Homo sapiens: one gene and its partner. The protein of the gene in region 2 interacts with the protein of the main gene of each other region in a pairwise test. Each region holds a gene or a part of one and is shown on either strand. Other genes may lie near its edges.

What was found.
Region 1: the proteins of SDCBP (region 2) and PDE4DIP interact in binary tests that used the Homo sapiens proteins (3 or more experiments, as listed by UniProt).

Annotation. Positions count from the first base shown.
Region 1 is NC_000001.11:148,969,841-148,973,497, reverse strand, and holds part of PDE4DIP (myomegalin), read right to left. Parts: intron 1,319-3,657; coding exon 1,154-1,318; intron 988-1,153; coding exon 906-987; intron 1-905. UniProt on the Homo sapiens protein: Functions as an anchor sequestering components of the cAMP-dependent pathway to Golgi and/or centrosomes.
Region 2 is NC_000008.11:58,566,761-58,570,417, forward strand, and holds part of SDCBP (syntenin-1), read left to right. Parts: intron 1-3,657. UniProt on the Homo sapiens protein: Multifunctional adapter protein involved in diverse array of functions including trafficking of transmembrane proteins, neuro and immunomodulation, exosome biogenesis, and tumorigenesis.

The DNA of each region.
Region 1 (3,657 bases), on a different chromosome or scaffold from region 2:
ACAAATACACACATACATACTTAAAAATATTCATTGCTAGTTCTGTTCTCTTAAAAGGGCCTAGAAGCGGCTGGGCGCAGTGGCTCACATCTGTAATCTCAGTACTTTGGGAGGCCGAGGAGGGCGGATCACGAGGTCAGGAGATTGAGACCATCCTGGCTAACACGGTGAAACCCCGTCTCTACTAAAAATACAAAAAAATTAGCTGGGTGTGGTGGCTGGCGCCTGTAGTCCCAGCTACTCGAGAGGTGAGCAGAGAGATCGTGCCACTGCACTCCCACCTGGGTGACAGAGCGAGACTCCGTCTCAAAAAAAAAAAAGGTCCTAGAAGCAAAAGGCATTCATGTAGCAATGAACACATCTTGTGTCCAGATCATAGTTTCTGAATGCCATTACCCACCAAAAGGAACCAGGGAGCTCTTTAGGATAATGGCTGATTCTGGGACTGAGGCAGGTAAAGCAAAAGGTAATCATAGAACATCTTATTGTGCCAGAAACTATCAAACTATGCTAACATTATATATATATATAACATTAGTAGGTGATGTCAAGTTACAGTGAGTGGCCCCAGACTTGAAACGATACCCAGGAAAAGGTGTCAGCTCATGGCCCTGCTGTGCAGGATTGGAACAATTACCTCCTGCATTTCTGAATCCCTGCAAAGCTATCTGAAAAGGAGAGTAAGGATAGAATTTCTCTGGGCCGAATTGTGAACCCAGAGCAATCAGCTCAACTCAACATAAGGTAAGGACAGTTCTTCAGCCTTTCAGAGGAATTCCAAACTTATTTGTTCTATTAAGGTAGGAAGAGAAAAGAGTCTTGGCCAAACCTATAATACAGAGATTACTAGAAGAAAAAACAAGAGAAAAACAAAGTCCCTTAATGAAATGAAATTTGATACTTACCTAATGTGGATCTGGGTATGCTGACATCCTCTTTGGCAGTCAATGAAGTGCTATCATCTCTGGAAGGTATCTGCATTGAACCCTAAAAAATTGCAAAAGTCAGGGGACTTAGGAAGATGCAGGAACTATGATCACAATGACAGTACTGAGAATATTCTCAGAATTTGGTATTAAAATTATCAAACTTACACCTCAAATGTAAAAAGGAAATGGAATCAGCATGAATTATGTAAGTCTATAGTTCTTACTTGATCAGTCTGTTTTCCAAGACGGCCAGTGGGGGTAACTTCAGCTTGTTGGTTAGAGATGGGTGCTTGGGACATCAGGGAGTCTCTCCCTCCTAAATATTGGCGCAGGGCCTGTAATTCTGAATTTCTTTCCATTAAGGCTTGCACCAACTTCTCTGCAGCAGCCTAGTAAGAGGAAATCACAAATAACATTATAAAGATATTCTAGTAAAACAAATTTTTTGTTCTGGTATTATTTCTTCAAAGTCAACCATTTGTAAAAAACAAACAACAATGACAACAACAAAAAACAGTGGGTCCTTAGGAAATAGTTTCCTTGCTTTCAGTTTACAGGGAAAAACAGAGTTAAGTGAATGGAAAGAAAGTCTCATAGGCAGAATATTGGGAAAAAAAACTGAATTTAACACATCTGTAACAGATAAGAGAATCTGAAATAGGTTCTGCTACAACTATCAGGCTAAGGTGTTAAGATTCTGGTTTGAATTAGTATAACAAATGTCTTTATTCTCGGATAGTTGCTTCTTAGGGGTGGATTCCTTTTCACTCAAACATTTGTGTGGTTTGCTCCCTTCAGGTCTTTGCCAAATGTCACCTTATCAGGTTGGTCTTTCCTGCGTATCCTATCCAAAACAGCAATCTTGCTGGCCAAAGTATAAGATGAATATGTTTTGGGGATCCAATGATAGCATGGTGACTTTAGTTAATAATACTGTATTATTTACTTGAAATTTGCTAAGAGAGTAGATCTTAAGTGGTTTCACCATACACGCATAAAATGTGTAGTGACGGATGTGTTAATTTGTGGCAATCACTTCAAAATGTATATGTATATCAACACATCATGCTGTACACCTTGAGTATATACAATATTTGTCAATTATACTTTAATAAAGCTGGGAAAAAATTTTTTTTAAAACCCAGCAATCTCTTCTCTATCTCCAACACTTCTTACTGTGCTTAATTTTTTTTCGATGCACTTACCATTATCTAATAGATCTCTCTCTCTGCTTCCCCTACATGGAATGTAAGTTTCCTAAAGGCAATTTGGTGCTGAATCTCAAGCACCCAGTACGGTGTCTGGCACATAATAGGCACACACTACATATTTACTGAATGAATCAATTACGCACATAAACATGTTTATCAGACCACATGATTAGGATAATCTCAACCTCAAAATCACCCAACTCAGCTTGTTTCATTTCAAATCCCAGTTTTCTAAGACAGATGATGACACACTAAGGGAAAGATCTAGAACATTTTTAACTATTAATGCACAGGAAGTCTGCATTTAAACAGAAAATCTGGAAATAATAAATTGATATTAAAATTACTGAGGGTCTAAGATGATGAATCATAACACCAACTGTCTCTGAGGAAAAGTACTATTGTTTTAGGGCAGAAGCTGAGCTCTTGTCACAATTTCTAGGGGAAATATGAAAAAACCTTCCACTTTTCAGTAAGTAAAATTTGGGCTCTTTGGAGATTTGAATTTAACTATTTTAGACGTATCAGAATATTATTAAAGTACCTTAATAAAAATATCTGTGAAAACTGTGGGGAAAAAACATAATAAATAATATACAAGATATATACTGTGCTCTATCTGCCTTGGCACTCCTTTTCTCGTAGTATTTAAGAGTTTTTAGCAGTGCTCCTCCAATGCAGTCCCCGAACCTGCAGCATCACTATCACCTGGAAACTTGTTAGAAATGCAAATTCTTAAGTCCCACCTATACCTCGTAATTTCTTTCTCTGGAGTTGAGCTCCACAATCTACATCTTTAAAAAGCTATTCAGGTGATTTCTTTTGCACGTAAATTTAGAGAAGCAGATCTAGAAGAATACAACCATTAATCTTCTTGAGTTGAAAAATCTCCTGTAATTTCCATCATCTCCATTATTCTATTACCAGCAGTGCATAATTTTTTTTCTGAGGTATAATAAAGACCAATTGTCCCAAATCACAAAGAAGTTAAAAAGAAAACTCAAAGATCCTAGCCTCTTGCCAAAGATTTAAATAATTTAGAATAATTTTGTTAGGTCTATTTTAGAAACAATTTCTGAAGCACACAGCAGGACCTTTCTAGAAAGATGTGTATTTACTTCAGTGGGCCTAACAATTAGAATAGTGGAGTATAATCCTTTCACAACATAAGAAAACATAAGAAAATATTATGGGGTCAAATAACATAGGCAAAAAAGAGTCTATCTTCCTCTAAAAACTGACTACGGGGATTCTGAGCTACTGGTATCTGAAATGCAGCACAAGTCAACTAAGAGTTTTTAGCCTTGAGGAGAAAACACATAGAAATGAGGAAAAATTAACACTTTACTATGGGCAGGGCATGGTGGCTCACGCCTGTAATCCCAGCACTTTGGGAGGCTGAGATGGGTGGATCACTTGAGGCCAGGAATCGTAAGCCAGCCTGGCCAACATGGTGAAACCCCATCTCTACTAAAAATACAAAACTTAGCGGGCATGGTGGTGCATGCCTGTAATCC
Region 2 (3,657 bases):
AAGGAAGGTAGTATTCATTTTCTCATCTGCTGGCCTTTAACACCACAGCAAAGCTAAATTACAGCAATGAACCAACCATTCATATTTTGTAAACTATTCTGCAGTAGCCACTAGGCTGTGGCTTTTAGCATCATACAGTCCCTAGACCTTTTTCTCTCCATTCCAAATCCTGACAAGAGCCTGTGGTTTCCTCTACTTATGCAAAGTAAGCTTTTAATAAATAATGATATACAGAACCAGAGCTTATCAGTTTCCTAATATGGTGGGCAGAATTTGGCAGCAGTGACGCTACAAGCATGTTTTTTCCACATCCTTTCTGTTAATGGCAGAAACAATAGGCCCTGGCATGCTCCTTGGGGCACCCCAACCCCTTTTTTTAGTAGTGTCACATTTCAAAGTAAGTTTGAAATAAGTAGCTACATTTAATGGTTTACAGTACTTAAAATTGGGTTACATCCTTTTGTTTCATTTTTACTGCAAATAACATAATTAAATTTAACTTTGCAGGGAGCTTTCTATATGTATTCTTCAGTATTCCTTGGATTAAAAACAATAGCAATGAAAGAACAGAAATTCATAACTACATACAAAGGAGAAGTATTTTAAATTAATAAGCTGTGTTTTAGAGCAATTTTAGATTCACAACAAAATTGATCAGAAAGTACAGTATACCTTCTGTCCTCACACATGCACAACCTCCCCCAGTATCAGCATCTGCACCAGAGCAGTACATCTGGCTCATTAATATCACCTGAAGTCTACATATTTACATTACATCACATTAGGGTTCACTGTTGGTGTTATATGTTCTGTGGATTTTGACAAATGTATAGTGACGTGTATATAGTCATGTGTTGCTTAAAGACGGATATGTTCTGAGAAATGCCTCATTAGACAGTTTTGTCGTGCAAACATTATAGAGTGTACTTCCACAAATGTAGATGGCATAGCCTACTACACATCTAGGCAGTATGGTATAGTCTGTTGTTCCTATGCTACAAACCTGTATGATCCCACCTGTATGATACAGTAATACTGCATGTTACTGTACTGAATACTGTAGGCAATTGTTACACAATAGTATTTGTGTATCTAAACACAGAAAAGGTATGGTAAAAATACAATGTAAAAGATTTAAAATGGTACATCTGTATAAGGCACTTACCATGAATGGAGCTTCCAGGACTAGAAGTTGCGCTGGGTAAGTCAGTGAGTGAGCGGTGAGTGAATGTGAGGCCTAGGACATTATTGTATACTGCTGTAGACTTTATCAATACTCTATACTTGGGCTGCACTAAATTTATTTAAAAATTTTTCTTTCTCGAATTATAAATTAACCTTAGCTTCCTGTAACTTTAATTTTTTAACTTTCTGACTCTTGTAATAACATAGTTTAAAACACAAACATTGTACAGCTGTATAAAATATTTTCTTTCTTTATATCCTGATTCTATAAGCTTTTTTCCTATTTTTTAAATTTTTAGTTTTTAAAAATCGCTTGTAAGTTTGTTAAAAACTGAGACACACACTCACATTAGCCTAGGCCTGCACAGGGTCAGGATCATCAATATCACTGTCTTCCACCTCCACATCATCCCACTGAAAGGTCTTCAGAGGCAGTAACATGCATGGAGTTGTCATTTCCAATGGTAATAGTGCCTTCTGGAATACCTCCTGAAGGACCTGCCTGAGACTGTTTTACAGTTAACTTTTTTTGTAAGTAGAAGGATATACTCTAAAGGGTATAACACAGGAAATACATAAATGAGTAACATAGTCATTTATTATTATCAAGTATTATGTACCATGCATAATTGTAGATGCTATACTTTTTTATATATGACTGGCAGTGCAGTAAGCTTATTTACACCACCATCACCACAAAGTAATGAGTTGTTCTGTGTGACGGCAGCTATGATGTCACTAGACAGTAGGAATTTTTTAGCTCTTTTATAATCTCATGGGACCACTATTGTATATGTGGTTCATCATTGACCAGAACAGGCAGCACATGACTGTATACCATTGTAGCATTAGACAGAATAGGTTCACTGCTCGAAAAATTCTTTAATGCCTGTTCTTCCTTCCCTTCTAGAAACTCCTGGCAACCAATAATTTGCTTTTGCTTTTGTGTTTTCTTTAGCGTCAGGATGTCGCTCTGTTGCCCAGGCTGGAGTACAGTGGCACAGTCATGGTTCACTGCAGCGTCCATCCTCCTGCCACAGCCTTCTAAGTAGCTGGGACTACAGGCATGCACCACCACACCTAGCTAGTTTAAAAAGAAAATTTTTTTTTCCCCCAAAACGGAGTCTGGCTCTGTCACCAGGCTGGAGTGCAGTGGTGCGATCTTGGCTCACTGCAACCTCCTCCTCCTGGGTTCAAGCAATTCTCCCTGCCTCAGCCTCCCGGGTAGCTGGAATTAACAGGCATCCACCACCATGCCCGGCTAATTTTTGTATGTTTACTAGAGACAGGGTTTTGCCATGTTGGCCATGACAAACATGACAACATGCCATGTTGGTCAGTTGAACTCCTGACTTCAGGTGATCTGCCCACCTCAGCCTACCAAAGTGCTGGGATTACAGGCATGAGCCACTGTGCCTGGCCAAAACAATTTTTTGCATAGGCAGGGTTTTCCTATGTTGCCCAGGCTGGTCTTGAACTCCAGGCCTCAAGCAACTCTCCAGCTTCAGCTTCCCAAAGTGCTGGGATTAAAGGCCTCAGCCACTGTGCCTGGCCTAATATTTTATTATCTCCACAATTTTGCATTTTTCAAAATGTCGTATAGTTGGAATCATAAAGTATGTAGCCTTTTGAGATTGGCTTCTTTCACTTAGTAATATCCACTTAAGTTTCCTCCATGTCTTTTCATGTCTTTATAGTTCTTTTTTTTTTCCCAGTGCCGCACAGTATTTTTTTTGTTAGACATGATTCAAGAAGTAATATAACAAGCCACTAGCTCCTTTTAGCTAATCGGTGGTGAAAGAACTTTCAAAGTTCAACACATGTTCAATTTGTGGATTGTTATTTATAATTATAAAGATTTTCATGCTGTATTTTGTTTAAATCTAGAATGTTTAACAAATTATGAAATAATAAATATTAAAGGATGACTCAACAAGTATATCAGAACATATAATTTTAGTACCATTCAAAGCTTTCATAGGCTTTACTTATTTAAACTAAGCTTTCATATCTCCAAGCATCTTTGGGAATACTCTTGACATTGATTTTAGGGCTAGGTTGAGATACTACTATGAACTTCATTTTTAAAATGATACATTTCCAATAAAGTAAAAAGTTGGTAGAGATTGGTCATACAACTTATTACCAAACTTGTCTCTAATGACATATAGCTATTTCAGAAAGTCAGATCTAATTGTAAAGGATAAAGTATTTCCATCAGTGAGATACTTCATATGATGTAGGCCATCAAGACAGCCCTGAGAAGAGGATACTTGAGCATGAGTAGCATTGATAAATGCTAGAGTGTCAGAGTGTGTCAGAGTGATTTTGGCAAGTTTGTTTAACAGTTACAAATTACATTACCTTGTCATCATCGATTTATGTCAGTGATAAACTGTGCTATTTTCATAATTTCTGATATTTTAAAAGTATTTAGCATAAACCCCTTCCTATACTTGCTGCAATGAAGAT